Regions from separate parts of the Homo sapiens genome. Here all the other regions are linked to region 3. The links come from fine-mapping of genetic effects on gene expression. A gene starts in region 3. Each other region holds a variant in brackets. All regions are shown on one strand. Distances are from middle to middle.

Region 1 (6,530 bases), 85 kb before region 3:
AATTCATTCAATAAATATGTACTTATTGAGTCAATTATAACATATAGTATGTTAAAAATTTGCCATATAAATGTGAAGAACTTATAATAAAAACATCAATTAGCTGATGTTTTTATGGGGAGTAAGACATAAGAGGAAATATTTTCTAAGTAGAGGATGGAATGGGAACGGTAGCTATGAATGAAACTCCTTGTGAGTATTGGGTCTAGGAACACTTTCAGAAGGTAAATAAAATGTTCACACAACAATAGAACAGCAAAACATCTCACACTCCACATCTCTGCAGTGGCTGTGAGAATGGCAGCCCCGGTTCTTGGTGTGGCTTGCCACTGCTGCAGGGGGCAATACAGACCTTGGTCTCAAGGAACTTTGGTTGTGTTTTGACCTGTCTGGTAGCTCTTTGAGGAATCAGCTCAGGGACTTGCGTTTGTTGTTACAATCTGATTCTAAAGTTTACACGGAAAAGTAAAAGACTCGACGAGCCAACACAATACTGATGAGCAAGAACAAGGATGGAGGACTCATCTGATTTAAGGACTTACCATGAAGCCCAGACATGACCCACACAATATATAAAGAATACCTGACAATGAAGCAAAGGCAATTCAATAAAAATGAGTCTTTCGAACAATTGGTGCTAGAACAATTGAACCTCTGTCTGCAGAAAAATAAACCTAGACACAAGCCTTACACGTTTTGCAAAAATTAACTCAAAATGTATTGTAGATCCAAATGTTAAGATGCAAAGCTATAACTTGTAAAAGAAAACATGGGAGAAAATTTATGTATCTGTGAGTTTAATTATATAGCACCAAAAGTGTGATTCATGAAAGAAAAAAATAGGAAGTAGACTTTATAAAATTTTTTAAAATTATACTTTGAAAATACACTGTTAAGAGATTGAAAGACAAGCCACAGACTGAGAAAAAAGTGTTTTCTATACTTACATCTGGTAAAAGACTTGAATACAAAATATACACCTATTGAAACACACAATAAGAAAAAATGTTAATGGGCAAGAGATCTGACCTCAGCAATGAAGATTTTTGTATTGCAAATAGGGATATAAAAAATTAAGCTCAGGCCGGGCGCGGTGGCTCACGCCTGTAATCCCAGCACTTTGAGAGGCCAAGGCGGGCGGATCACGAGGTCAGGATATCGAGACAATCCTGGCCAACATGGTGAAACCCCGTCTCTACTAAAAATACAAAAAATTAGCCGGGCGTGGTTGCGGGCTCCTGTAGTCCCAGCTACTCGGGAGGCTGCGCCAGGAGAACGGCGTGAACCCGGGAAGCGTAGCTTGCAGTGAGCCGAGATCGCGCCACTGCTCTCCAGCCTGGGCGACACAGCGAGACGACTCTGTCTCAAAAAAAAAAAAAAAAAAAAAAAAATTAAGCTCAACATCATCTATAATTAAGGAATCTCAAGTCAAAACAATAAGCTACCACTATGCCTATTAGAATGAACATTTTAAAATTGACAATACCAATTACTAGCAAGAATGTGGACCAAAAGAAATTTCAATTAATTGCTGATGGCAATGCAAAATGGTACAGCCATTTTTGAAAACCATTTGTTAATGTCTTACAAAGCTAGACATAGTCTTCTCAGATAATCCAGCAATCACGCTCCATGATTTTTTTAAATTTTACTTTAAATTCTGAGATACATGTGCTGAATGCACAGATTTGTTACAAAGGTATACATGTGCCACGTTGGTTTGCTGCACCTATCAACCCATCATCCAGGTTTTAAGCCCTGCATGCATTAGATATTTGTCCTAATGCTCTCCTTCTCCTTTCCCCCGGCCCCCGACAGCCCCAGTGTGTGATGTTCCCCTCCCTGTGTCCATGTGTTCTCATAGTTCAACTCCCACTTGTGAGTGAGAACCTGTGGTGTTTGGTTTTCCGTTCCTGTGCTCGTTTGCTGAGGATGATGGTTTCCAGCTTCATCCATGTCCCTGCAAAGGACATGAACTCATTCTTTTTTATGGCTGCATGCTCCATGATTTTCACCAACTGATTTGAAAACTTACATTTACAACAAAAGCTGCATGTAAATACTTATAGCAGCTTTACTCATACGGGCAAATGAGGAAGCTAACAAGATTTCCTTCAATAAGTGAATGAATAAAAAAATTTATGATGCATCTGTAGAGCTGATATTATTAAGTGATAAAATGAAGTGAAATATGAATCCATAAAAGACATTTTTGAATTTTAAATGCATATTTCTATATGAAAAAGTCAGTGTGAAAGGGCTACATATTGGATAATTACAATGGTTTAACTTACTGGAGAAGGCAAAACTGTAACAATGGACAAAAGGTGAGTGGATGCCAGGGTTTGTAATTTTTCTGTGAATCTCTAGCTATTCTAAAATAAAAATGTTATTTAAAAAATTAGAAGTTTTATATTATATCAAGAATTTTCTGTTAGGAATGGAAAAAAGTGCCCATGGTAATCAAGCCTGCCATTTTGTTTGAAGTTCATGGTTTCAATTCTTATCATTCAAGTGTTCAGCTTTTGGATTAAAAGACTCCTCAACTGTCCCAAGTAAAAATGTGGACATGGTTGATGGAAGTAAGATGTTAATAAAGTAGTCATTATTACCTTAGCCTTTAAGTCCACTTGAATAAATCAACTGAAAACTAGCTAAATTTTGGAAAGGGGAGATGAAAACTGACAGTAAAATATTCTGAGCAAACATATTATTGTAAGAAGAAAGGAATGCATATTGATTTAGATAAGGGAGTGTTATTTCAGAGAAAATGAGAGATATTAATATTTTCTTTTAACAGTGGGACTTCTGCAGGAAGAAAATATTTTTATAGTTTGACTCAGTAAAAAGAAGGTATAAAAAAAGAGGTACAGAATTGGCAAACTGGCATGTGTTCACAAATGATGAACCTTTCCTTGCATCTCATTTTACCTGGAGGTAGTTCTGATGGGATGTTAGATATATAAATGAGGTAATTCATATTATTAGAGATAAAATAATGGGAATATATAATGAAATGCACCTTTACATATATACTTTTATTCATTACAATTTTATTTTTTAAATAACCTTTGGAAGGGGTAAGAAATACAGGTAAAGATTAGTATTTATTGATATTTTAAGTATTTGTCTGAGTTATTCAAATTAGCATTAAAAGGAGAAAATGTTACATTGGTTATTGGAAGATAAAACCAAATTAAATTATATACTTGTGGCCTCAAGATTGAAATTAGCTAAACACATATTAGAACAAGGGTTCTTTTGGATAAAATGTCCTTTGCCCATATAAATGATAATAGAATAAAATAAGTATCAGGGCAATTAAC[T/A]AAACAGTCATAATTATTGACTGATCATATGTAAAATAAAAATGTCATCTTTTATCAAAAGTTTAGACAGGATTTTGGGAGGAAATTGTGAGAAACAAAAAATGTAATCCCAATAGGATGAACACAGCTTGTAAATAAAATATTGCTTTGAGTTTGTTTTCTTAAGATATTTTTGGATGTAATAAATAATAATAATAAACAGTGAGAACACTTGGACACAGGAAGGGGAAGATCACACACCGGGGCCTGTTGTGGGGTAGGGAGAGGAGGGAGGGATAGCATTAGGAGATATACCTAATGTAAATGATGAGTTAATGGGTGCAGCACACCAACATGGCACATGTATACACATATAACAAACCTGCATGTTGTGCACATGTACCCTAGAACTGAAAGTATAATAAAAAATTATATATAAAAGATATTTTTGGATGTAATAAAGATTTACTGCTTACAATATAAAGAAAACAAAGTCTTTTGGGTCTTTTTTAGCACAATTATTCCTTTTGTCCATCTTATTATATGAAAAGGAATATGGTCTGAAAAAAATATAGACATTACTCAGTACTTGGTCTTTGTGAATTGTCAAAGCATCAGAGCAAATATTGGAGAAGTTTTATTGCTTAAGTTCTTGTCTCTGCTTCTGGCTTTTGTCAAGAGGGTCAGGTCCCCTTCACAAGAAGGGTATAAGTATAGAGCAGGAGGTCAACAAGCGATAATTCTAGGTTTCAGTTTAAAGAACACAGAAGAAATCTTTCATGAGCTTAGGAAAATTGGAGAAGTATACTTCAAGTAACTTGGGTTTCTGAAGCTCTTTTTTAGAAAATCAATAGCAATATCAGGCAGTACAACACTAAGAGAAATTTCTAAAGCATTTATGGAATTTTATATCTTTCAATAGAGAGCTTTGATTTTAAGTCCCTGTCCCTTTGAAGCAATGTATTGATTTTCTTCCCATTGTTCATGAGGTCACTTTATTTTTATAAGAACACTACTACAATTTGTCTATCAATTCAGAGGGAAAAAGGTAAATATACAAATTATTGCCCAGAAAAACTTCACTCTGTAAAAATAAAAAGAATATAATCTATGTTCTCAGACTTTATGTCTACTCTGTATATTTGTGACTCATAAAGCATTGTGTGGTCTGGAAATCATTACTTTTATTGTTGTTTCAGGATCAATAGCAAGCAATACACACTAGTACAAGAAAAGAGAGTCTAGAAATTAAAGGCATGTTTCTTGCCCTAAGTTCTGCCCTTCTCTTCAGCTGAAGGCAATTTTGATGCAATAAATAATAATTCTTCATGTACAATTTAAATTATTAATATATTTTTGACCCCCTATGTAAAAAAGAATTAACAAGCTCCTGGCCTAAATCACTCCTATTTTATAAACCCAGAACCACAGAATACATTTCTTTGGGACTTATTTATTCTTAGTCCCTCTTCCCAAGAACTAAGAAATGTTGAGTAAGTTCTACCCTATGCCCTGTCTCACATTCCTGTTCTACTTTCTTACGACCAGTTTGAGACTGTAATATGTTTTCTATTAACTGGAAAATGGTAAGGACAGCCTTGCTTTTAACTTGACCATCCTGTTCTCTGGTGGTCTTTCACTAGCACCTTTAACTTTCTGCTGACATTATCTCTTAAAAGAGGTGCGGTGTGAAGATAATGAAAGTCACATACACAATGACCACAGCTTCAAAATTAGTCTTGGCATTTAAAAGTTTTAATTTAGCCTAGAAGTGTCAGATGAGTTACATTTCTTCATATTGATTTTTTACTTTTACGTAGTGATTAAATGAGTTCAGTTTTGAAGGAGTAAATATTTTATGGAATTGTCCAATTTATATAGTTTATTAAAATAATGTTTCTACATTTGGGCATACATAAAGTTTTTAGATGTTCTTATTAATTTGAAATATGAAAGTGAAGGCATATTTTAAGGCATATTTTAATTTTAAGTGGTACAATGTTTTCAAATGACAAAAGGGTAAAGAGAAAAAATGTTCATAAATATCTCAACTAGAAGTAATAATTTTAAATGATAGATTTTGTTGGCATATTTATTTGTTTAGATGACACAAATCTGGAAAACATTGAATATATATTTTTGTAAATGGCTATTTTCACTTAACAATCTATTGTATTACATGTCAGTAAAACAGTTTCTGAATCTTACTTTAATTACAATTTTTAAATTTATATGGATATTACATAATTTCTGTAACTCATATATTTCTAGGCACTTAGTTCATTGTCAAGTTTCCACTTTAAATAATAATGCTGCAATATATTTGGTTTACATAAAAGGTACCCAACTTCTCTGATTATTTTGATGTTATTATGGACAAAATTATGTTTTCCAAAATTCATATATTAAAGAAGAAACCAAAACTTCTGATACTTTGAGACTGTACTAGCCTCAAGAAACATGAGAAAATAAATGTTTAGATTTTAAGCCATTCATTCTGTGGTATTTTGTTATGGTACCCCTAGGAAATTAATACAGGTGCATTTCCAGAAATATACTCACCGCATCAGCGCTTAGGAACTCTGAAATTTTGAATTCACATTCACATTTTGCTCTCCATAAGAAGCATGAAAGTTCCTGCTTTATTATGCCCTCACAAACAGTAGTTAATAATGTGTTAAAAAGCAAAAATAGAGGGAAGGGAGGGAGGTAGTGATGAGGGAATAGAGGGCTAGAGAGAGGGAAGAGAAAACAACAAAGGCATTGCTTTAAAAACAGAGTTTAACAATGAATAGAGACAGAAAGCAGTTTGGCATGAATTCTATTTTTCATCTGATTAATTCCATTTAATTTATTAAATAAATATATTTTATTAATAATATGGCCCAAAGCAATATTTTTTCTAATGTTGAAAACATGCAATAACTACTGGTTACTCATCAATAGAATATAGGGCAAGGATTTATGCAGATTTCAGTTCCTAATAATTACAAACTGCAGAATTTTTAGAGGACCTCAGAAAGGTAGTAAATATTATGTGACTTTTTAATATAAATTTTAGCAGGCAAACAAGCAATATTTTCCTGTTCAAGGATAACCAGTGGAAAATAAATACATAAGAAAAGAATGCTTTGCTTTGTAGTGTACTGAATTATAAGCAGTACTTTCCCAACACTATGAGAATTTGATAAATTTTCACACCTACATTTTTGTGAAAAAAATCTG
Region 2 (6,530 bases), 42 kb after region 3:
TAGCTAGAAGATCATGCTCTGAGGAAGTGAGATCTGTGATGGAGACCTGAAAGACTCCCCAACATACCCTCCCTGCACAAACACAGCCATGCAATGCCACTAATAGTGCTGAGCTATGCTAGCAAATAGGAGGTTCAAACATGTTTCCCCTGCCAGGAACACTCTTCTCATTTCTCACTTGTTCCTTTTTATCTTTCCAGTCTCAAGACCTTCAAAAAAGGGCCTTTCTAGCCATTTTTATAGCATCTATAGGATGGTTCATTTTATATGTCAACCTGAATGGGCTACATGATGCCCAAATATTTGGTTAAACATTATTCTGGGTGTGATTGTGAGGGTGATTCTGGATGAGATTAACATTTGAATCAGTAGACTGAATGAAGCAGATTGTCTTCTCCAATGTGAGTGGGCTTTACTTATCCAATCTGTTGCAGGCCTAAATGGAACAAAAGATGAGATAAGGGAGAATTCATTCTCTCTGCCTGATTGTTTATGAGTTGAGACATCATCCTCACTTGTACTTGGACAGGAACTGTGCTACCGGCTTGCTCTCCTGGGTCTACAGCTTATAGAGGGCAGATTGTGAGACTTCTCAGCCTTCATTACTACATGAGCCAATTCTTGATAATCTCTCTCTTTCTCTCCCAGTGAATGTGTGTATGTGCACATATGTGTGTATACATACATATATATGTGTATATATACATATATTGTTTCTGTGTATATATGTGTGTGTTTATATGTGTGTGTATATATATTGTCTCTGTGTGTATATATATATGTGTGTGTATGTGTGTGTGTGTGTGTGTGTGTATATATATATATATATATATATATATATATGGAGAACCCTGAGTAATATAACTTAGTTTTTTCATTCATAACACTTTTTGCAAATTATGACTACACATTTATTTGTCTGCATACATTTGTTTTGTCGATGTCTCTTTTTAGAATGTAAAATAAATCCAGTGAAGGCAAATGTCTTGGCTCTTTTGCTTACTGCTAAATACCTAACATCCAGCACATTGCCTGGAACATAAAAGGTGCCAAATAAATTTGTGCTTATTACATAAATATATAAATAAATGAACTAAATGAAAAATGTGAAATATAGTTTCATTTCCTCACCTGTAGAAAAAGTAAATTGTATTTTTTGGGTGTGTATTTAGCAAGCTTATGTGGGGATCAACTTTAGAAATGCATAAAAAAAGTATATTTAAACCTCTAAACTCCATATAGATACTGGAGATTTTTCAAATATGATTTCGTCTACCAGGTTATTAAATCCAAACTGTAGTAGTGCAGTTTTAATGTCTAGGTATTGCTTTCCTATTAATTTTTAGGCCATCCAGTGGTTTTCTTTAATTGATTTAATATAATTTTACTTTCTCCTCACACTGTTCTCTTCTAGTTTTTCTATAATTTCAAGCATGGGGGTGGCCATGAGTTCATTTGCTTTCTTGGAGGGAACTGTGTCTCAGAGAAGTTGCAACCTGCCCAATATTACCTGTGTTTAATAACTGACAGGAAGAGTTCAATTTATGTGTCACAACTTCAGATCGTTCTGTTAAATCATAGGTGGAAGGCATAGCAAAAAGGAGGGTCAATCATTTTCCTTGAAAGTAAAATAGAATGGTTAGAACAATTTGATTTAAATGATTTTTTTGTTTACTTATTTAGTAATACAAAACTCAGTGTCAGGCCGGGCGTGGTGGCTCACGCCTGTAATCCCAGCACTTTAGGAGGCCGAGGCAGGCAGATCACCTGAGGTCAGGAGTTCGAGACCACCCTGGCCAACAGGGCAAAACCCTGTCTCCACAAAACATACACAAAAAAAATTATCCAGGCGTGGTCGTGCGCACCTGTAATCCCAGCTACCCGGGAGGCTGAGGCAGGAGAATCGCTTGAACAGGGAGGTGGAGGTTGCAGTGAGTTGAGATCGTGCCACTGTACTCCAGCTTGGGTAACAGAGTGAGACTCCATCTCAAAGAAAAGTAAAAAGAAAACTCAGTGCCAGCTATTATTTTTTGTGTTTTTTTTTCTCCTTTTATTTTAGTTTTGGTGGTACATGTTCAGGTTTGTTACATGGGTAAATTGCATGTCACCGAGGTGTGGTGTATGAATGATCCTGTCACTAACGTAGTGAGACACACCCAATAGGTTATTAATTACATGTGTTAGAATTCTAAAGCAAAATAAATGTTCCTTTTCTCTAATATTCTTTTGAACTCTATCAGTTAGAGGCCATCAGTATGATTTTAGAAATGGTGAGTTTCAACCGCGGGCAGGAATTAAGGCATTTCACTGAAACATTATCTGCCTGAATTGTAGCTTTGCAGTTCTTCTCTAAGCTATGTTATATTGATTTGCCATTCACTGTATTTTCTGATGTTAACATTTACTTTGCCTAAAGGAATAAACATAAAAAGACACTTTGTTTTATTTGTCCAAAACAATTTGTGATAGCTGAGATTATCTTTCTGGATTTAGAGTTCAATAAAATTGGCAGGTGACCTGTACTCTAATTATTGTATAGATATGACATTTTATTTATAAAAAACTTGATTTTTTAACACATTAAGTGGAAAATACATTTAAAGAAAATTATATCTGTTAACCAACTTTCCTCATCCTTTAGTATATTATGCTTGTAGTGGAGTGATAGGGTAAAGGCATATGGGTAGTGGGGTAAGTCATATGTAGTAGAGTGAGAGGGTAAAGACATATTATATATACATATATATATGAAAGCATATATATAAAATATGTATAATTTCTTTATATATATAATTAAATTAGCTTTACATAGAGTTTTTCTGCCTCTGTTTGTGTTTCTGTGTAATCCAATGGTGCTTGGTCAAGCTTTCATAGACAGTAATCTTAAGCGTAAGTGAGGTGCTTAGAGTACTTTGATACTCTTAGTGAAGCATTTTTTAAAACAACCCTGACATAATTATTCCCCAATTCTCCCAACAGAAGTAGAGATTACACTATAAGCAATTCATTATTTGCATTGCTTAAATGTACCATAGAGATAATAATAGCCTCCCAGAGATGTTCAAGTCTTAACCCAGAGCCTGTGAATATGTTTCCTTACATGGCAAAAGGATTTTTCATGTGTGATTACATTAAGGATCTTGAAATGAGAGATTATTCTGGATTATCCATGTGAGTCTAATGTAATTGTAAGGGTTCTTATAAGAGAAGAACAGGAAGGTCATAGTCAGAGAGAAAATGTAAAGATGAAAGCAGAGGTCAGATATTTGAAGGTGCTATACTGCTGACATTGCGCATGGAATATGGGATCATGAGCCAAGGAATGCAGGCAGCCTCTAGAAGCGGGAAGAAGAAAGGACATGTATTTTTCTTTAAAGCCTCAGAAGGAACACAACCTTGTTAGCACCTTGATTTTATCTCTTTGAAACCTAGTTAGGACTTCTGACCTCCAG[A/G]ACCATAACATAAATTTGTGTTGTTTTAACCCATAATGTTAGTCATAATTGTCTTACAGCAATGCCATATGTCTCAGTCTATTTGGGTTGCTCTAACAAAATACCATAAACTAGGCAATTTATAAACATGAGAAATGTATTTCTTACAGTTGTGTTGGATGGGAGGTCCAAGATCAAGGCACCAACAGATTCAGTGTCTGGTGATGACCTGTTCCCTGGTTCATAAATAGTGCCTTCTGTCTGTGTCCTTAAACGGTGGAATGGGCAAGGAAGCTTTATGGGACCTCTTTCATAAGGGCATTGAAACACAGTCCATCCTCGTGATCTAATTATCTCCCAAAGGCCCCACCTCCTAATATCATCACATTCATGATTATGTTTCAACATTATAAATTTTGGGGGAACACAAACATTTCATGTCATTGCAAGCAGCAACAGGACTCTTATATTATACAAAGAGTCACCCTGCATGTCATGATATTTGAATTATGAGCTATGAACACTTTATAATACCTTTCTTTATTTCCTCTAATCACTTCTCATAAAAATACCAAGTACATAAATTGAAACCAAAAGAATGAGAAAATATTTATCAAATATTCAATAAATGTTTACTGAGCAAAAACTAAATTTCAGGGACTTAAAGGTCCTGGAAATAAATATAAGAGTAAAGAATATTAAAACTATAATGCTCTGTTTCAGAGCAGGGGCTGGAGAATACAATTCATTATGGATCTTTAGGCACAACAGAGCTAAGAGAGTTATGCGATCAGATTCATGTGTTTCACATGGTGAAATGTGTGAAAGGCCTCAGAAGAGGTTGTCTTTAGAAGTATCTATAATTCAAGTTAACAGCCTTCAAAGGTTTCAATAGCAGCTAAACCTCATTCATCATTCCAGGAAGAAATAAATCTACTTCAGTTCATCTCACACCATTATTCCAAGGATTGCCTGTGAGTTGTCATTTTTTTTTCTTTGTATGTATTAGTGAAGTTTGCTCTTTAGTTTTAGGACAGGTTATACAAAAGCATCCAAGAAATTTAGTCAAACTACTAGTTTGAATCACCAGCAAAATAGTGAAATCACTGATTTTATACAAGTCACATCAAGATCATGCCAAGTTTTAAAATAAACAATCAGTTGTACAGTTTTAAAACCTTCATTGTTTGGTCATTGCTGTATAGGTGTGTACTCTTGGGATATATACAGGTGTATACTCTTAGGATATATCTGTCTCCTCATTGTGTCTCCAAAATTATTCATTTGCTGCTTGCAATAGTGCCTAACTTTAAAATGGCATGTATGACTATTTAGAAGATACACTTTATCTTATTTGATTCTCTCAGTTTTTTATAGAAATTATAAAAATAATTGTAATTTTTAAAACTTTTTCATCAGGGTAAACTTCAAACTCATAAAAAAGTTGTTTCATCTACCTTAAGAATTGTCAACTGGGGCCAATCTTAATGCATCTATACTTCTGTACTGATTCATTTTGAAGCAAATCTCTTCCATTTTTATCATTTAATTTATAATGATGTTAAGTATGTAGCATGTATCTTCTAAAAGACAAGAATGTTTTAAATATACATAGAAATAATCTAATATCTGAAAAAAGTTTCTTAATTTCAAGTAACTTGTCAATAGAGATCTCAGAATTTGTGTATTACATATAACCTTATATAAGTGCTTAACGTTACATTGTCTCCTATATTTCTGAAAAAAATATTTTTAAAGAGATTGGTCAATTTTTTGGAAATAATATTTCTTAGATGGTATACATTTCCATCAGAAAACACATAACATCTGGTTGTCTCTGTTACGTGCTGTTGACAGCCATATATGATATTTCTAGGAGCCAATATGTTGTTTGAAGTTGGATTATGGCGATACTCTATTTCTACCATTTCTCATAAATAAGTAATTGGCATAATTGTATAAATTTTTTTCTTATCAATTATTTTTTGAATTGAGGTACAGTTTTTATAGTAAGGAGAGATAATCTCTTTGATTTTTCTTTTATTACCCAGTATTTAATATAATGAATTAGTTACCTATTATTCTCTAATTGTGACCATTATTTTTTGTTTTGATTTGGTTGGTTGGTTTGGTTGGTGTTGGCTTTTTGATATCATTATGTACTCATAAATTTAAATATGTTTGATAAGTGTCAATCTATTGCAGTTATCATTCTTATTGATGGGCAAATTATCTCAACTGTACCCAAGGAGAAACTCTTCAAATTGGTCTCTAGGACTTTTTAACGTGACACTAGTCGTCTCATATCTCTTTTGCTATCTGGTTCTATAAGATGTTATAGCAACATCTGGTATACTTTCTAACCCATACCTCAATCAGCCATTTATCCAAGGACACCTGATTGATTTCTTTTGATAGAAAATTGTGTTCAGATTCCAGAATGTAAGTGGCTAGTGGACACATTAGAAATGAATTGTTCATTATTTCCAGATGTTTTTCAGTGGATATTATATTCATTTCCTATTGCCACTATAACAAATTACCACAGGCACAGTGACTTAAAACAATGCAGATTTTCCTCTCCTACAGTTCCAGAGGTCAGAAGTCTAAAATAGGTTGGCAGGGTTCTGTTCCTTCTAGAGGGTGTAGCAGGTAATCTGTTACCCTGTTTTCTTGTGTTTCCAACACAAATATTTCTGAAAACATATTTAGAATAAAATTGAAGTGAAATAATAATTTATTAAAGAAAATGTCTCCAAAACATATTCATGTATTTTTTTTTTTTAGATTTGTAAGTTGTTTTCTTGAATATTTTAGAGCAAACTCATTGGTAGCTTATTCATGTCGTATTGTTAAATTTAGGAAGTTAGAGCGGGTGTGATGGCCCATTCCTGTAATCCCAGCAGTTTGGGAGGCCACAGTGAGGGGATTGCTTGAGGCCAGGAGTTTGAGACTATCTTGGTCAATTTAATGAGATCCTGTCATTATAAAAAATACAAACTTTTTTTGGGTATGGTGGCACTGGAGAGGCTGAAGTGGGAGGATCCCTTGGGCCTTGGAGGTTGAGGTTGCAGTAAGATATGATCATATCACTGCACT
Region 3 (6,530 bases):
CACAATCAATAGAAGACCAAATTATTTTTCAAAGAAATTTATGAATCAATGAAATAATTATAACAGAATATAGGAAATGCTATGAATTGAATGATTGTGAAAATAAAGGAAGTCAGAAGAAATGTATAACCTTAAATATTTATTTGAGAAAACAAATAAAGATCCAAATACGTGAGTTGATCATCTGATAAAAGTAAGAGTTGACAAAAAAGGTACATCTTCTCCAATCCGAAAACAGAAAGTGGGAAAGATCAAGGTATCACTAGAGGTCAATGAAACAAAACATACAATAGTGGATGACAAAAGCCAATCTCTGAATCTTTGAAAAGAATATAATAAATGAACATCTGAAACCAGTGATCGAGAAATGTTTTAGATAAGGCACAAAAAGATACCAAGAATGTTAACACTAGGCTGTACATCCTAAAACAGTCAGATGAGCTCACTGTTATAATTCTGGTTCACCGCAAGAACCTTAGCACAAAGAAAGGACTCAACAAACATTTGGATCCATGAATAAAATTATCTTCCCACATATAACCACCTGCCTAAAACATTCTCCTCCTCCTTGAATTAAATTCACCATGTCTGCATCATAGGAGGCCCAAGGCCAGTACCCCCTCCCCATCTGCACACCCTGTGTTCAAACCAGTCCCAGCTCCTGTCATGTTATTGGCTTCTGAGTATCTGTATTAATAGTTGTTCCTGCCAGCATATGAAGATGAACAAATACACAACTGAGAGAGATCCAGGGATTTTAATCCACAGATGCCAGAGCTTGCTGGGATGTAGTCAGAAATCAAGCTGAACTCAGGAGTTCACAGTCTTTCCTGTAATGATGGTTGGGAGGTGAGGGAAGTCAGAGGCCTGGGGAAGAAGACAGGGGTTAGCTCTGGGTGGGCTAAGCATGGGAATGAGGTGTAACATAAGCTCTTTCCTGTTCCCACCATCCATCTGCTCCATGGGTAGCAGAGCTCAGATGCAGAGAGAGGTAAACCAGGCTTTCCCTCCTTCCACACTTGCAGTCCAGGGACACCAAGGCCTGAGTTGGGTCTGACCTTTTCTAGGATCTTTCTCCATGCTGCTGTCCTCCAGGAAGTCATGGCAAATTTACATCTCCAGCAGGTTGTAGACCAACAGCCTTGGAGAAATACAGTATAGACAGTGGGTAAGGCCAATCTCCCAGCTTCTGTCTCCACCTGCCAGCCCATGCCCACCTGTTCCATCTCTCATTTACCTTGAAGGACACACCAGGGTCTCTCCCCATGGTGTCTCCTGTACTCTGCTCCTGGGGTCGAGTCGGCTGCTGGGGTTTATCATCTGGAAGATTCTCTGCCTCAGCCTCAGCCTCAGGGAACAACAGCTTACCCTGCAGGGTATACAGAAGCTGGAGGAAGGTCTGATACCTACAAAGAGGAGGTAAGTGTGAAGGAAAGGAATCTCAGCTGGACCATTTTGAATCTGCAGCCCATGCTCCCGAACTTACCTCTGCAGCTTGTCCCGCTCCTGTTCTGCCTGCTGCTTCAGGTTTCCAAGTTTCTGAAACACCCTGTCAAGCTCCTGCTGAGTCCCTGTCTTACGCTCCCTCACCTCTGCAGAAACCTCCGCCAGATGCTGCAGATGCTTCTCCTGCCAGGAGTGAGCATGCAGACATTATGCATCAGATGTTGAAGTCTTAGAAACTCCCTCCAACCCCTCCAGCCTACACCCAGCTCAGGGCTCAGGCTCAATGATGAAAAGAGGGACTCTATTCACTTCAGGGTGGAGTAGGGGCCTAGAGAAAAGGAAAGATCAGAATGAGCTGTTCTAGGGTGAGGCATTCTTGCGGGGAAGGGGCACAAAGGTGATAACACTTATTTAACTTGCTATGTGCCAGGTACTATTTTAAAGTCCTTGCTGTAATGATCATTTAATCATCTTAATAACTCTCTAGAGTAGGTGGTATTATTGCCTTCATTTTAAATAAAGAAACAGAAAGTTAGGTGACCTGCCCAAGATCATGCAGTGGTAAGTGGTGACACTGAGATTCAAGCCCATGTTGGTATTTATATTATAGTGCCTCAAAGGAGGAAGCAAAACGGTTTTCTAGACAGGGGACACAGCCGATACAATGGCATGGTGGTGGGAAGGGATATTCTCCTAGGGGGACGAACCTACCTGTTGTAGCTGCCACTGGTTCTGGACTGCTCTGCGTTTCTCCATGGCCATTTGTTTCTACAGATAAGCAAGGGAGAAAGACCAAGAGAAGTCTATTTTTTCTGGCTAGAATTTTGGGAGATTGCAAGCTGGCACAACTCAGCTTGCTCACTCTTTCCCTCTTCCTTTCTAACTGCCCTTCCCTCCCTGTACTCAAGACCCCTGGGTGTACCTTGGCCTGGAGCTGCTCAAAGGCTTCCCGGAGTTGTGTCCGTTTCCTCTGGGCTTCCTCCATCTGAGTCAGGGCCTTGGTGAGGCCAATTTTGATGGCCTCTACGTGCTCCCTGTAGGTGGCCTTCAGCTCTTTCCATTGTTCCTTAGCTGCAATTGCCTTCTGTCCTGAGATGAGCCACCAGGAATGAGTACATGAGTGAGGGTGGCCTGCTAGCCTGCCTCCCTGCAACACTGGGCCTCCTTCCCATCAGCCAAATGGGAGACCTAACTGAAATCCTCCTTCCTTCCCCACTCAGGTCAGCTGCTACTACAATCCCCTGCCTACTCACGGCTCGTGTCTTCAGAAGCCAAGGGGTCGAGACCCTTAGCAGTGTCCTCCTGAGCCAGGATGTTCTGCAGGAAATCCGCTACCTGAAGCTGGCTGCAGAGCAGCTTGTCTTTCTTCTGAGAGTCCTGCTCAGAGGGAGGGCAGAGACAGGGAACATCCTTACCTCCTTACAGGTTTCCTTAAGTCTGCTCTCTGCCAGTGCTGCCCTGTATCTCAGTAAGAGGAGCCAGGACCAGACCCTGGCTTCTGAAAGGCTCGCTCTCATCTTGTACATACCACCACAAACTCAACCAGGATCTTGGCTGGCAGTTCTGCCTCCTCCTGCAGGCCTACAGGTTCCAAGATGCCTGCCACCTCAGCCAGGACCCTGGAGGGGCAAGGAAACACAGGAAATTGCAGTTTCTTGTGGTGCTAGTTCTACAGTTCGTGTGTGTACACAAACAAATGTGGATGTGTATATCAGTATATATAGTATTGAGAGTCTTGCCTTGACCAGAGTTTACACAAGGGCCTGAAGGGTCCACAGCCTGCAACCAGGAATGGCGTGCATGGAGGGCACACGGTGGTAATACGTGCCAAAAGGAAAATCAGCAGGGCTAGTGGATAAGGAGTTTGAGAAAAGAGCTGAAATTTTAAATAGGGAGTGTCTCACTGAAGAGAAATCATTTGAGTCAAGATGTGAAGGAAGCCAGGGAGATATGCAAGGAAGGGGAAGAATGCTGGGCCTTGGGATCCCTCCTGGCGCTGAGCACCAGCCTTGGGGCAGAGTCTTGGAATAGCTGAGAAAGGACTCAGGGCAGAGGGCTGGATGCCTCGGTCTACTCTAGGGTTTTTCATTATTAGGGACTGGAGCAATCTACGAAGGGGCAGGGATGGGGATGAGAAGTGACTGGGAATGTGTCGTGTTGGGACAAGAAGACAGAAGTGAAACCGTCTCCTAGAGCACATCCTGTGGATTATGTGGATGTGGGGAGCGGCGAACGGTCCCCCAAAGGCTGTACTCCTGGAGCAGGCAACAGACACCTCAGGAACCTAAGACGGGACTGCGGTGAGGATCACTTCACGGCAGGGTCGAACCTCAACAGCTGTACAGGGTCGAGGGCACCAATCATTACACATAGGGGCCCACAAGGTCCTCCCAGGCCCGGCCCCAGCTGCCACTTAGCCGCAAACACTTACTCTAGGGCTGCAGCTTCCGCCTCTGTCTCCGCTGCCTCCATCTTTCCAGGCGCCGAGTTCAGCTGCCTTCCCACAATCCCTAAGATTACTTTGAAGTCACAGTCGACTTCGCGCCGGGGCAGGCGATTGGCTGCAGAGGTTAGTGGGCGGGCATCAAGGACCATTGTGCGCTCTAATTGGCAGGCGCGGATTCGCTCGTTGGCGGGCCTCGCTGCTTGGCGCAAGCGCGGTTATGGCTAGGCGCGCACGGGCTCTGCGCCTGCGCGCTAGTCCTTACGCGGTGCCAGAGACTATAAGTGGGCTTGAGCTCGACCGCGCGCCTGTGGAAGTTCTTTCTCTACTCGAAAAAGGGAAAGCATTTCCTTGAGTTTGCGTTTTAAGGGAAACTTACAGCATTGACACTTTATTTAAAATATTCACTACTGCTGTAGAAAAAAAAAAACAAAACCCCGAAAAACAGTGGGGCTGTTTCTAAGACGCTGGGAATCAGTAAAGAATAGTGATCCGGGAGATACAGGAAGCAAATGATCTGCGCTCAAAAAGCGAGCTGCTTTCAAAGATATTAGTATTTTATAGATGCGATGCAGGAGAGTGAACTCAAGCAGAGCCCAGCCGATTGCCTGCGTTGGCAAAATAGAACAGATATTCTGGGGAGACCAAGGTAGGTAATGTTCTTTGCAGAGTACAGGAGAAAGATAACTGCTGAGAGAGAACTTGGTATTCATTCAGCTGAGTACTGAGCAGTATGTGTCTCAAGAAACTAGCTAAAAGATTTTTAAAGATACCAGGACATGGCCGGTCGCGGTGGCTCACGTCTGTAATCCCAGCACTTTGTGAGTCTGAGGCAGGTGAATTACGAGGTCAGGAGTTTGAGACCAGCCTGGCCAACATGGTGAAACCCCCGTCTCTACTAAAAGTACAAAAAAAATTAGTTGGGCGTGGTGGTGGGCGCTTGTAATCCCAGCTATTCGGGAGGCTGAGGCAGGAGAATTGCTTGAACCAGGGAGGCTGAGGTTGCAGTTAGCCGAAATTGCGCCACAGCACTACAGCCCTGGTGACAGTGCGAGACTCCGTCTCACAAAAAAAAAAAAATACATATATATATATATATAAATATATATATATGGACATTACAGAGGGTCAGAAATAGTCTCTATTTCCACTAACCAGGCTGGAAAACTTCATAGTCCGTAGGACACTGGACAGAGTACACACAAAAAAGTCTTGATTTGATAGTTGTTTACTAATTATTTAGTAGGCAGTAATTAGTCCTAGCTGATCAGTGCTGTAGTGCCATCTAACTCTTAAAAGTAAGACCCAAATGGATCAAACTTAACAAACCATGACAGATGACAAGACCAAACTTCAGCAGTATTTATAGAAATAGAAAAATGTTCACCAAAGGTGCAATTTACATATGTCATACAAAGAAAAATTACCAAGCTTGCAAAAAGAAAAAAAAAAACACATAATGAGGAGAAAAATCAATTGCTGATCAGAACTGAAGTAATGTTAGAATCAACAGGCAAGGACATTAAAACAGTTATTGTAACTATATCCCATATCTTCAAAAAGATATCAGAACTATAATGAAAAAGGTAAGTGGTGCTAAGGATGTAAAGAAAGTGGAATTCTCATGTTGATGGAAATGTAAACTGGTGCATAGGCTTTGAACGTAGGGTTACCATATGAGTCACAATTTCATTCCTAGTTATATATCCAAGACAAATAAAAACATGGGGACACAAAAGTACACAAACCTCTATAGCAGCATTATTCACAAAAGCTGAAAGGTAAAAACAACCCAAAGGCCCATTAGCTGGTGAGTGAAAATGCATACTTTCATTCAATGAAGTATTAATCAGTAGTAAAGAGAACTTTATTACATGCTAAATAATGGTTACTACATGCTAAAATATGAACCTTGAAAATATACTAAGTGAAAGAAGCTAATTACAAAAGACCACATAATATATTATTTCATTTATGTGAAATGTCTAGATTTGACAAATCTATAGCAACAGAAAGTAAATTTATATAGTGCTTGTCCAGGGCTGGGGATTGGTGGGAATGAGAGGTTGAGAGAGTATGGGGAGGGACTGCAAATGGATATAGTGTTTCTTTTAAAGGGATAAATAAAATGTTCTACACTTCGGTTATGGTGAAGGTTGTACAATTCTATACAGAAAACCGCTAAATTTACACTTTACTGCTGTCATAAAAGCTGTTAAAAAAGTTAATCAAAGACACAAAGCTTGTAATAAAGACCTAAATCAAACTTGTAGAGGTGAACACTACAATGTGATAGATGGAATTAGATGGTATTAATATAGTATGTTACACATTGCAGAATGAAAGTGAAACACAGCTCTAGAGAAACTACCCAAAATCAATCACAACATTAAAAAATGAAAATAAAGTAACATGAACAAATCAATGGTGAGCTGTGAGACAACTTCTAACAGCCTAATAATATACTTGAAAGTGGAGTCTCAGAGAGGCAAGGGGAGAGGACAAGAAAACAAGTAATAAAGACCAAAAAATTTGAAATGTGATGAAAAATATAAATTCATATATTCAAGAAGCTTCACAAATCTCAAACACAAGAAATATTAAGAAAATGACATCAAGTTATACCATAATTGCATAACTC
Region 4 (6,530 bases), 77 kb before region 3:
AATTAATTTTAGAAAATCCTAGACAAAAATAAGTTAACCATTTTTTTCTTGAAGAAATTCTCAGAACCACTATTTGTTAAATTTCATTGTAAATCCCCAAAGAAGGTATAGACACTTCAATATTTGCCAAAGGCCAGACTGATAATGTCAATAATTATAGGTTGGTGCAAAAGCAATTGCGGTTTTTGCTATTAAAAGTAGTGACAAAAACCACAATTACTGTTGCACCAACTTAATATCAAATGAGATTTTGGTCCTAAGGCATTTAAAGCTGTGTTGTTCTATTTACATCGCCTAGAACATAGCTCTAAGTTCTATAGTTCTGTATTCACTCCCATTGTTATTATTGTGGTTTTGACCCTACTTACCTTATTGCTGCACTATTACGACAGTTCTGCAAACATTCTCCTCTACTGAAATAAATTATCCCCACAAACTGTCTTTCTAAAATCAGATCTCATCAAGTAGGCTTTGAAATCTTGAACGAATATTCTCAGTTTAACATTTGACATCAGTGTAACATGCATCTATTATCTTTAGCAGTAGTATCTGTACATACTCTACCCTTAACAGACCCTATATGTGGGCCCTTACGTTCATTACTGTTTCCCTAATGGCACAATAAACTTTCATACCTTTGTGATTTTGTTCAGAAACACAACTACCTCACTTGTATTCTCATATTTTAGGGATTAGTTGAAACGTAACTTAGTAATATCTTTAGTTTAATTTCTCCTTTTGAAGTAATTGATTTATCAAATGTGTTCTTCTAGTAGTTTATACTTTCATTTATCACATAAAGTACCACAGAGGTACATGTGTCTCTCTTAGTGCACTATAGCAGTATACCAGCCAGGAGACATATCATAATTCAGGGAAAAGTGATATCTTCAAAAGACACCTAGTTCATGTGGTATATTTTTTAGTATGTTGCAAAAGCATATTCCTTATATCTAAATTCTAGTTTCACCTGCTATCATCTCCTATAATTTGATATGACATTGCTATCAATAGAAAGCAAACTTTGGCTGAGTAATTGTAGTAGAAAGATTTGGATTTAGAGTGAGGGTATGAAGAATAAATCAGAGTGAAGTTATGATCACACTAGTTGGTTTATTTATTAGATGCTTACTGATTGTTAGGCATCTTGCTAAGCATTCTATATACACTATCATGTTTATTTCATGATGTATTTCATGTTTATGAACGATAGAAAGGCAAGAGAGCAGTAATAAAAGAGGAAATAAAAAGGCATCTTATTTACATTTCAGAATGTTTCCCAATCCAGGTCCTACATTCACATAGCAATATGCATTTTGAACTTACTATGCTAAGAACTAGAAATGCAAAAATGAATAAGTACTATGTCCACTTTCATAGAGCATGCAAACTAGTGTTTAATGAATTGTTGTAAAAGATGTCCACAAAAATGCCATGAATGCCATGAATGACCATAGAATTCTGACTATTAGACTTGAATTGTGTCCTTCTCCAAAGATAAAAAATATACTGATATTCTAGACATCAGTACCTCACAGTGTAATCTTATTTGGAAGTAGGGTCATTGCAGATATAACTAGCTAAGTAAAAATGAGATATAACTGGAGTAGGGTGACTACTTAATGCAATACGTTTGATGCCCTAATAAGAAGATGAGAAGGAACACAGGGACACAGCACATAAAGGGACAACACCATGTGACAAAGGAGGCAGAAATTGAAGTTCTGAAGCTGCAAGCTAAGAAACAAAGGATCTCTAGCAAATCACCAGAGGCCAGAAAGAAATGAGAGAGTTCTCACCTATGGGTTTCAGAGAAACCATGACCCTGCTGATACCTTGATTTCAGGATTAAAGTATTTCCAGAACTGTGAGAAAATATTAATAAATTTTTGTTTTTCTTTGTCATTCAATTTGGAGTATTTTATTACAGCATACCTAGAAAACTAATATGCTCACATAAAAATGACAATTTCCATATTTGAGCTAGCTTATGAAATATTACTAAAGCAGTAATGTTAGTTTTCTTTGAAAATAGACATTCTTGTCAGAAAACAGGTGGAGAGCAATTTGTGGAGCAAGTAACTGATTTGTTTGGCAGATTTTTGTTCATTTACAGATTTTTTTTTTCTAACTTATATTTTAAGTTCAGGAGTACACGTGCAGGTTTGTTACATAGGCAAACTTGTGTCATGGGAGTTTGTTTTACAGATTATTTCATCACCTAGGTGTTAAGCCTAGTATCCATTAGTTATTTTTTGTGATCCTCTCCGTCCTTCCACCCTCTGCCCTCTGATAGGACCCAGTGTGTTATTCCCCTCCACGTGTCCATGTGTTCTCATCATTTAGCTCCTACTTATAAGTGAGAACATGCAGCACTTG[G/A]TTTTCTGTTATTGTGTTAGCTTGCTAAGGGTAATGGCCTCCAGCTCCATCCATATCCCTGCAAAGGACATGATCTTGTTGTTTTTTTATGGTTGCCTTGCATTCCATTGTGTATATGTACCAGATTTTCTTTATCCAGTGTATCATTGATAGACATTTAGGTTAATTCTATGTCTTTGCTATTGTGAATAGTATGGCAACAAACATGTGTGTGCATTTGTCTTTACAATAGAATGATTTATATTCCTTTGGGCATATATCCAGTAATGAGATTGCTGGGTTGAATGGTATTTCTTGTTGTTATTGTTGTTTGAGACAGAGTTTTGCTCTTGTTGCCCAGGCTGGAGTGCAATGGTGCAATCTCAACTCACCGCAACCTCTGCCTCCCAGGTTCAAGCGATTATCCTACCTCCGCCTCCCAAAGTAGCTGAGATTACAGGCGCCTGCCACCATGCCCAGCTAATTTTTTTGTATTTTTAGTTGAGACAGGGTTTCACCATGTTGGCCAGGCTGGTCTTGAACTCCTGACCTCAGGTGATCCACCCACCTTGGCCTCCCAAAGTGCTTGGATTACAGGTGTGAGCCACGGTGCCTGGCCAGTATTTCTATCTTTAGGTCTTTGAGGAATCACCACACTGTCACAGTCTTCCATAATGACTGAACTAATTTACACTCCCACCAACATAAGCATTCCTTTTTCTTCACAACCTCACCAGCATCTGTTATTTTTTGACTTTTTAATAATAGTCATTCTGACTGGTGTGAGATGGTATCTCATTATGGTTTTGATTTGCATTTCTCTAATGATCAGTGATGTTGAGCTTTTGTCATGTTATTGTCGACTGTCTTCTTTATTTTCTAGAAAGAGCAACTCTATTAAGGTATAATGTATAACAACTCCGTTACAACAGATAAGAGATCACATAGCATATGCCATAAAGAAAATTTGCTGTGTCTCTTGTTGTTTGTTCAATGATTTTTCAGGCAATCTAGCATTAACAATGAAATTATATTACAGTAATTGACTGTATAGATTTTCTTTCTCATCTTGTTACTATCTTAATGGTTATTGACATAGAGTATGTCCTTTAACTTCAACATTACACATCAACCAAAAATCAGCTTGGGCACTAAAAGGCATATTTAATTCCAAGGACTCAGCACCACATATCAGCTCTGTCGGTAATTACAAAATGTTCTACTTATCAAAATACTCAACAATTGAGCAATGTAAGTCCTGTGTTATATATCTTTCCCCAAAATACCTACTTAGATCTCTACATCTTCAATTTCTTTGGAATGCTTACGTAAGTAGAGATTATTTTGTTCGAACTTTTATTGTTTGAGAGTATTTTTTTATCTGTATTTTCTTCTCACCAAAAAAAAAAAAACATGTTTTGCTGCAATTTGCTTTACCCATAATGTGAAAGCATATTTTAGAAAAACTGTAACAGAAATAGAATTAAGATGCAAAAAGCAGATTTTTTGGAGGTAGTTGATTTAGTTGCTTCATGTAACAAGTTTAAATATTTTGTGTTATTCAATAAGCAATTTCAGGGATCAGTCCATTTTAGAAAATGATACACTCCTAAATTATTTATTGTTTTTAGTTTAATAATCTGTTAAACTTTTGAGAAGCAGTGTTATCAATATTTCATTGTTTTTGACTACCTGGCTGATATATTTATTAGGCTGTTGCAAATCTTACTCCTTCTCTTCTCAATACTCACATTGATTTGTAAGTACCAGCTGGTTATCTTTCTATCTTAGTAATCAGAATTTCTATAGTATGTTTTCTTTCCTATAGTTTCAGCTATGTTAGAATATTTAAAAACTGCTTTATGAGATTCAGTCTGTGAAGTTTGAGAGCCTTTTGCTTTTTAGACTAAAAAGTATGTGTTTTATTTATCTTGCCATTAATCAATGCAAGCACATATGGTAAGTATTCATGGGCACCTACTTGCTTGATAACTTTTATACAATTATTAGACTCCAACTGACATTTTGTGTTACTTTGCCTTCTTATTTATGCTTTACATTAACCTTTGCTTTCCAGTATGATTTGTTTATTAGAGATCTGCTTACATTACTGGATAGCCCTAGTATATTTTATCTGTCAATTCTTAAGCAATCAAGTAACCATGATGAAATAGGAAACAAATTATTTTAATAGCATAGTATCACACCCTTTTTGAAATAAAATTTTGCAGTATCTTTGCTTAAAAAGTTCTATCTGCTCTTTAGTCTTCCCCAAAGTGCCACCGGTAAAACTAAAACCTGCCATATTCAGGAAATAGCATAATTCAGAAACTTTAAATTTCTTTCCATACGATGATGACATAAAGAAAAGGTCTTTCTTGCTTTACTTGAGTATTGCTTTAGTTTTGGGTATGATGTGCATTGTACACTCTGGTATGGTTTATCAATACCAGTTATTTAAGGCAATATATACGACAAAGAAACTGGATATACACTTGTTGTAGTATATGATGTCAAGGTTTATTCATTTATATGATCTCACTTAGCTTTCTAATTGCTACACTATGTGTTGAATGTAGAAGTGAAAATTCAGTTCAAAGACTTTTTGTCAAGTTTAATTTGACTAATTTATATGATTGGTGTAGAACATTTCCATCATCCCAAAGAGTTCTGTCATTTCTGTCAGTCCTTTACCCCTGCCCTATGGCCCCTGCTTTCTAGCACTTTGTTTTTGCCCTTTCTAGAATTTATATAAAATGAATCAAACTGTATTTGGTGTTTTGTATCCGAAATTCTTCACTCAGAATAATGTACTTGAGAGACATCTATTTTGTTATGTCAGTACGTTATTCTTATTTATTGCTGAGCAGAATTAATTATTTCACAGTTGTCTGGATTAAATATATATACATATATACTATATTTATTATTATACACATATCTTTTAAATCATCTGTAATAATTGTAAGGAAATATTTTATGTGCCTTTTTATGTGACTTCCTTTAATATTTTCTGTAAATATGTTTGCTGAAATATTTTATATTAGACAAATATATTCCTATTTAATGGATTATATGCTATATTTTGAAGAAAAATATTTCAACACTATTTTGTAAAAATATTAATGAAATAATGAAATATTGGCAAATGATGACATTTACTAAATAATGTATCATTATTTTTTACCCTAGTCTAACACTAAACATAATAAAATTGTTTAAATTAATTAGAAATTCTTGTATTCACCTATAGTAAAAGTGCAGGTAACATTCTTTATTACTAGGAGATAAATTCATTGAATCTGTTTTTATTTGAATATATAATTAAAATCTTGTCATAAATATTCAGCAGGCTTAGATTCTCATGCTATATGGCTGAGCAATTTTAAGAAATGGTTTTATAAGATAAATTGATAATATTGAAATGCCTATCTGTAAGTATATACTGGTATTTCCACTATCTAACACACTAAATGTGTGTAATTCTTCTAAAACCTAGGAAATTATTTTACTAGAAAGACTTCTACCCTATATGACAATATCCTCTGGGAAAATGCAAATGAATTTTTTTTCCCCAAGTAAAACATAGAAGTTTCACAGGATACTGACTAGCTTTTACTTTACATACAATGTTCTTAAACTTCAATATTTGAGTTTTCAAATTTCACTAAATTAAAGAGAGATAGCTCAATGCAACAGCAAAGAAATTGAAAAATGTATGAAGTAACTTATTAAAGCAAATCAAGAAACTAAAGTTCTACATAACTTTGACACAAGAATTCCTATGTAATTTGAGATTGCTTAGCATGTTATTAATCAGTATGGCTCACATTACTCTCAGGGTATTGCTTAACTTATTACTGTTACAAAATTACATATGTACATAATAATGAGTCATAAATATAATAATAAACATAGCAGGGCATCATTGTCATACATGTCTAAAAAGGGTGTAATATTTTTGGAAAATTCCTATGACAAAGAGTTAGACAAATTTTCTTGCACAGAAGAAGTAACATTTACTTATGTGCCATTTTGAAAAACTATCAGAAAAAATTGAATATACATGTATGTTTTCATATGAGCAAAGCATTAGAGAAGAAATGGCTAGCTTTCAATGTTCATATTAGTAGACTGAAACTATATAATTCTCACAGCTTCCATAAAAACAA
Region 5 (6,530 bases), 580 kb before region 3:
ATGCCTGGTGACACTGGGATTTTAATGCATCTCTGGGTGAGTCTAACATAAAGCCAAGTTTAGGAATCATTGACAAGCTCCAGAAGCCTGGAAAAATGTATACGTGAAGATAGAGGTTAGCGTTACTCTCTCATTGGATGAAAACACCTGACAAGATTTACTTATTTATTTATTTATTTATTGGGAAACAACATTGGAAGCAGTTTCTGCTCTGCCTCTTTAATCCCTTGGCCAACGCAATCTTGAGTTCTGCACAGTCTCACTATTAAGTCTTGTAGGGTGAATACATCTTTACTTCAAGTTTTCATGCACTTTATCTTCATCTCGGAGAATTATTATTTGAAAAAAGTTCTCAATATAAAACTCATATTAAGTAAAAGACATATAATACATTGTAATAATTCAGCAAATATTGCTTATGGTGTTGTACTTACCTGACACTTGTGAAAAATTTAAGGAAAAATTTTAAATAGTTTTACATTACTTTCATAGAAGAACCACAGTAATATAAGAGCTCTGCAAGTCCACGTTTTACTACGTTGCATTATTTGAAAAGCAAACTAATTTTGAAGTATCTGATGATTTCAAAACACAGTTCACTATTATTTAATTAGTGAAGGGAGATGCATGTGAGGATTTGAAATATAATTTTTAACGTTGACTTAGATACTTTCCCGAAATACCATAAAAGTAAATGGTATTTATATATTTGTTTGTAAGATGCTATGATTTTAAATTTAAAAGTCTATGTAGCTTTTTCTGAAGGAAGCTGCTCTACCATTGTAGAAGCAATTTTGGGGCATTTCTCTTACTTGATTGACTCTTTTCTTATCCAGATGCTACCCATTTTCAAGATTGCACAAACTCCACTTCTATAAGGGAACTCAGCCCACAAGGCTCTCATGTACATCAGTAACGTCTATATCTTTATTTACCACATATGACTTGCCCTATCAAATGAAATTATATACCACGAAGTCAGGATCATATCTCAACTCTTCTGTAAACTCCACAATGCATAGCATAGTGTTACTCATGGGAAGAATCAAATACTTGTGATTGAAATGGGTTAACATTCTTCTCACGTTAAGGAACATACTTCTTTTATTGTACCTGTTGTTACGCAGGGTGTAAGATTTATTCTTTTCCCCAGAGTTGATATCAATACTTTAAAAATATGTAAAAATTGAAGATAAATGGGGAAACAAACAATTTATGAAGGTCAAAACTATGAAGTAAATTTCAGTTCATGGTTATTTGGCAGAAATACTAGGTTGGAGAGTATGGTTCACATATGAGACCAAATTAAATATTATTTAATAGATTTATTTCATACTTAGTTGAAGGAAAGCAAGAAGTAAAAACTTAGCTTGACCAAAAACCTGACTTGCTTTTGGCAAAAATTGTGGTGGAGAGAGAAGAGAGAGAGAGAGAGAGAGAGAGAGAGAGAGAGAGAGAATGAAGAAAGAGAATGAATAACCTCTACCCTGTGAGAAAGTCTTTCCATTCCAAATGACACAAATAGAGAATCTAATGAATCTGAGTCTAGGAAAGTCAAAAAGGAAGCAGATTGGTATCCAATCATTGAAGACAATAAACCTGAACACTAAGAAGACATGACTAAATAAATGTCAGGTTCTAAACAATTAAACTGGTTACTTCTCTTACACTGAAGTAAACAGAGACTGGAAATCTCTGTCTCAACTCTCCCTATCAACTCAATACCTTGGAGTCGAACATAGTTTTCCAAATAAAAAGATAATGAGGCAGAATATGACACCTTGATTACTAAATGTTCTAGTTCATATTGAATATTTCCATCTGAACTTGAAAGCCAAGGTCTCGGGGACCCATTTTTAATGTGCTTTTCAAAAAATTCATATTAATTACTTTATATGTAATTAACAAATAATTAGATATGAGGCTCATAAATGAAATATTTATGTTCATATAATATGGCTAATGTATGGTAACAATAGTATTAAATCTATAGATCTATGATGGGAGATTTACTAGAAAAACAATAGTAGGTCTCCCAACCCATGAGCATAGAATGATTTTCCATTTGCTTAGATTATTAGTTTTCAGCATACAAATCTTAGACATATTTTGCTAAATTTATTTCCAAGGGTTTATTTTTATAGTATTGTGAATATAATTATTTTTAAAAAAAATTTTTTAAGAGAGAAATTGTCTTGCTCTGTCTACCAGACTGTAGTGCAGTGTCTCCCAATCATAGCTCACTGCAACCTCAAACTCCTGGGCTCAAGCAATCCTCCTGTCTCAATCTCCTGAGTACCTAGGACTGAGAGGTGAAAGCCACCATGCCTGGCTAATTTAAAAAAATAATAATAAATTCATAGAGAAGAGGATCTCTCTTTGTTGCCCAGGCTGGTTCTGAACTCCTAGACTCAAGTAATCCTCCTGACTTGACCTCCTAAGGCACTGGGATTACAGGCCTGAGCTATTGCGCCCGGCCACTTCGATTTCTTGATGGCTTTATCAATATATTCTTCATTGTATTGACTATAACTTCCAGTGCAATACTGGATAGAATTAATGAGAGTGAACATTAGAGACATCTTTGGCATGTTGCCAATTTTGAGGGGAAAACATCCAGTCTTTCACCATTAGATATGCCGTAAAATGTAATGTTTTGAGTTGTTGTTGTTGTTGTTGTTGATGTCCTCTAACAGGTTGAGGAATTTCCATTCTATTTTTTTATTAATTAATGTTAGATTCTGTCAAATCCTTTTCCTGCATCATTGAGATAATCATTTCATTTTAGTTCTTTATTTTATAACATAGTATATTACATTAGTTACTTTTTAAGTACTAAAACAATCTTGCATTTCTGGGATTAATTTCACTTAGTCATGGAGTGTAATCATTTTTATATATGGTTGAATTTAGTTTGATAATATTTTATTGGAGATTTTTGTGTCTATATTTGTGAGGTATATAGATCTGTAATTTTATTTTTATTTTTTTCTTTTTAAAAATTTCTCCTCCTTTCTTTCTTTTTTCATTTTTGCTTTTGAATATAGGCCTGATAACATGAATTGGGAAGTTTCTCTCTTTTTCTATTTTCTGAGTATGGGTATCATTTCTTCGTTGAATACATGAAATAACTTACCAGTGAAGTCATGTAGTCCTATATATTCCCTTACATAAGACTTTTAATTGCTAATTAAAATTTAATTGCATATTTATTCAGATTTTCTATTCATTTTTGTTTCAGCTGCAGTAATTTATATATTTTTAAGACTTCATACCTTAAATGTAAGTTGTATAATTTGTGGTCACAAAGCATTTTATAGTATTTCCCTTGTAATTCATATATTTGGATGGGATGAGGGAGGATTGGTAGTAGTAACCTTTGTTCCTGATTTTGGTAATCGACACATTCTCTCTTTTTTCTTTTCTTTCTTTCTTTCTTTTTTTTTTTTTTTTCTTTTTTGAGATGGAGTTTCGCTGTTGTTGCCCAGTCTGGAGTGCAATGGCAGGATCTGGGTTCACTATAACCTCCACCTCCCAGGTTCAAGCGATTCTCCTGCCTCAGCCTCCCGAGTAGCTGGGATTACAGGTACCCGCCACCACGCCCAGCTAATTTTTGTATTTTTAGTAGAGACTGGGTTTCACCATGTTTGCCAGGCTAGTCACAAACTCCTGGCCTCAAATGATCCACCCGCCTCGGCCTCCCAAAGTGCTGGGATTTTAG[G/A]TGTGAGCCACTGTGCCCAGCCTTTTTTATTATTTATCATCTAAATATTTCTCACTTTTGTTTATCTTTTCAAAGATTCAAACTTTGGATCATTAAACTTCTTTATTGTTTTTTGCTTCATTTGCTGTTTGATTTCTGCTCTAATCTGTATTATTTCTTCATTTTTCTTGCTTTGTGCTCACTTTAGTCTTCCTTTTAACTTCTAAAGTTGGGAGAATGAATTATTAATTTAAGAACTCTCTTTTTAAAATAACCTTTAAATTTTGATATAATTGTAGATTTACTTGCAGTTGTAAGAAATAATATAGAGAGATCTCTTGTAACCTTATCTCAGTTCTCCCAATGGTAACATCTTGCAAAACGATAGTACAATATCATAACCAATATATGGAGATTGATATAGGTAACATACAGAATATTTCCATTACCATGGAATCCCTCATGTTGTTCTTTCCTAGCCACATCCATTTTCCTCTTTTTCACCTCGTCTTTAACCCTTGACAACCACTAATCTTTCCTCCATTCTCATAATTTTGTCACTTCAGTAATGTTATATAAGGGAAATTCCACATCACATAATCTTTTCTGATTATATTTATTTACTCAGCATAATTCTCTGAAGATTTATGGAGGTTGTTGCCTATATCAATAACTTGTTCTTTTTGTTGCTAAGTAGTGCTTCACTGCATGAATGTAATACATTTTGTTTAAACTTATTTACTCCTTCAAAAATGTCTGGATTGTTTCCAGTTCGGGATTATTAAAAATAAAGCTGCTCTGAATATTTGTGTAAAGTTTTTGAATTAACATGGTTTTTAAAAATTACTCCGCTGTAAATGCTCAGGAGTGAAATTACTGAGTCATAATGTCATTGCATGTTAAATTGTTTGTTTGCTTTTTAAAGCAAGTATCAGATTGTTAAAGAGAATGGCTTTATTATTTTACATTCCCATCAACCATGCAGGAGTTACGTAGTTTCCTGCAGCCTTGCCAGCACTCAGTATTGTCATTATATTTTTAATTTAACTATTATCTTGAGTATATATTGAAATCCCACTGGGGTTTTAATTTTTCATTTCCCTAATGGCTAATGATGTTGACATATTTTCATGCTCTGATTTTCTAAACATATATTCTTTTCAGTGAAATGTATATTCATGTCTTTTGCCCACTTTCTAATTTGACTTTGTTCACTCTTAAGTTTTGAAATTTCTTTATATATTCTTTATACTAGTCTTTTTCAGACACATGGCAAGCAAAAGGGGAAGGAAGGAGCACCTTTTTACCATCAAGTTGAGATGAAGGTCAAGGTTCCCCATTAGGCCTCCCTTGCCACACAAAAAGTAAATACTCTGGGTTTTCAAGGTAAAGTAATGAATGCCAAGAAAGACTCAAATTTTATTTATGTACTAATCATAAAGATGAACTATATTATTTAGATAATCAGAAAAAATAGACAACTTAAGGTTGAGTGAAGGAAACCAAAACTGTGGTTCTACTATCTTCAACTCTCATTGCTAATTGTATTCATGAGATAAAAATCATGACTAAGTAAACTAGGACAATCATGTTTTACCCCATTTTAAACAATATATCCAATTACTGGATGGGAGTCATATTGGTGGCAATCTTTATTTTGGTTAAGTTGCTTTGTTATCTAATGGGGTTTCATAAGAGATTTATTTCACAAAATATAAATGTTTAACAGACCACCCTTTGGGGCACAGGAATAACCAAAATAATCCCCTTCCAAAATGCTTTTTCTTTTGAAGCTATTGATCTTCTTGTATACATCTAGGGTTGTGAAATGAAATGGATGGTAATTAAAGAAAATGTCTAGCTGACACATAGTTGTCACATTTTTTCTTATTTATACTTTATCTATATCCAGCTCTGTGTATGAATGGATTAATACTAGCCATTATTTGTTGTGCCAATAAGCAGTGGCAATTTTGTGGTGGTGATACTATCACAGTGGGCTAAAGAAGGACATCAGGTTTGGGGTTTGCTTTTTGTTTCTTTCTTTCTTTTTTTCCTTTATCTTATAGGGTTTCTTTTTCTCTTTTTTTCTCTTACCTAAAGCTGGTCCTCCATTGAAAATGACTTCTTTTACCTTTCATTTATATTCACTGAAATGATACTTGACCTATTTTTTTTTCAAAATTATACTAACATTTATAACAATTATCTAGAGAAACAATATGGTATGATAGTTATATGCATAGCTCTGATTTCAGAGTGCCTATCTTTGAATACCTACAATCACACAATGGATCCATATAGTAATGATTAAAATGTTCTCTGCCTGAGTTTCATCTTTCATAAAATAAAAATAATAATAGTGTCTTACTTGTATGCTTCTCATGATAATTAAATTGCTAATAGATATATGTCACCAGAATACTATGCCTTCAGTAAATGCTAACAATTATTATTATTATATTAGAAAAGTTCCTTCTTCATGTCACTGACCTGCTGTTAACCTGTAGTGTCTTTTGTGTAGCTCACACACAGTTCTCTGTACAGCCATTGTGAGCAGCTGTATTACATTCATTTCATTAACTGTATTTGTTCAAATTGTTGCAGGGCTCCTACTAACCTATGTAACCCTCAGAGCTCCAAACAATATTGTCTTATCATTATCTTTCTACCTTTTTAAATTCCCTTGACTTTATCTTAATTTTCTTTTTGTCTGCTCTAACCTGTACTGTTGTTATTAGATTATTTAAAACATTTTTTCTTCAAGAAAGCCTTCCCAATTTATCAGTATCCTACTCAGAACTGTTTTAACTCAGGCCCTCTTACGATT

Direction of the effects. Alleles are on the strand shown, and positions count from the first base shown. SD is a standard deviation of normalised expression in the study named.
For the expression in fibroblasts of the gene that starts at base 3,941 in region 3, allele T in region 1 goes with a higher level than allele A (small effect, 0.24 SD a copy in GTEx).
For the expression in hippocampus of the gene that starts at base 3,941 in region 3, G is the low allele of the variant in region 2 and A is the other (large effect, 1.1 SD a copy in GTEx).
In carriers of allele A in region 4, the expression in esophagus muscle of the gene that starts at base 3,941 in region 3 tends to be lower than with G alone (large effect, 0.78 SD a copy in GTEx).
In carriers of allele G in region 5, the expression in prefrontal cortex of the gene that starts at base 3,941 in region 3 tends to be higher than with A alone (large effect, 0.83 SD a copy in ROSMAP).

What was found. PIP is the estimated chance that this variant, and not a neighbour inherited with it, causes the effect. A credible set is the group of variants that fine-mapping cannot tell apart.
Region 1: its variant is the best candidate, but not a certain one, in a credible set for the expression of ZWINT in fibroblasts (GTEx, PIP 0.54).
Region 2: its variant is the best candidate, but not a certain one, in a credible set for the expression of ZWINT in hippocampus (GTEx, PIP 0.79).
Region 4: its variant is the best candidate, but not a certain one, in a credible set for the expression of ZWINT in esophagus muscle (GTEx, PIP 0.84).
Region 5: its variant is the best candidate, but not a certain one, in a credible set for the expression of ZWINT in prefrontal cortex (ROSMAP, PIP 0.69).

What each region holds. Positions count from the first base shown.
Region 1 is chr10:56,272,725-56,279,254 of GRCh38, forward strand. No RefSeq gene overlaps it. Among named protein-coding and RNA genes, the nearest start is that of ZWINT, 85 kb to the right of the region's middle. The variant T/A (reference allele first, on the strand shown) is at 3,327.
Region 2 is chr10:56,398,839-56,405,368 of GRCh38, forward strand. No RefSeq gene overlaps it. Among named protein-coding and RNA genes, the nearest start is that of ZWINT, 41 kb to the left of the region's middle. The variant A/G (reference allele first, on the strand shown) is at 3,453.
Region 3 is chr10:56,357,319-56,363,848 of GRCh38, forward strand. ZWINT (ZW10 interacting kinetochore protein) reads right to left here and starts at 3,941. Exons shown (of 9, transcript NM_007057.4): 1 at 3,878-3,941; 2 at 2,975-3,065; 3 at 2,700-2,823; 4 at 2,369-2,535; 5 at 2,158-2,214; 6 at 1,487-1,629; 7 at 1,238-1,406; 8 at 1,059-1,141; 9 at 1-867. The coding sequence starts at 3,918. The coding sequence ends at 1,100. It overlaps LOC124902546 (a long non-coding RNA gene), which reads left to right and starts at 4,141. Exons shown (of 2, transcript XR_007062372.1): 1 at 4,141-4,538. RefSeq lists enhancers at 1,826-3,025, 2,171-2,911, 3,651-4,390, 3,739-3,908 and a silencer at 3,999-4,208.
Region 4 is chr10:56,280,087-56,286,616 of GRCh38, forward strand. No RefSeq gene overlaps it. Among named protein-coding and RNA genes, the nearest start is that of ZWINT, 78 kb to the right of the region's middle. The variant G/A (reference allele first, on the strand shown) is at 2,380.
Region 5 is chr10:55,779,792-55,786,321 of GRCh38, forward strand. No RefSeq gene overlaps it. Among named protein-coding and RNA genes, the nearest start is that of ZWINT, 580 kb to the right of the region's middle. The variant G/A (reference allele first, on the strand shown) is at 3,722.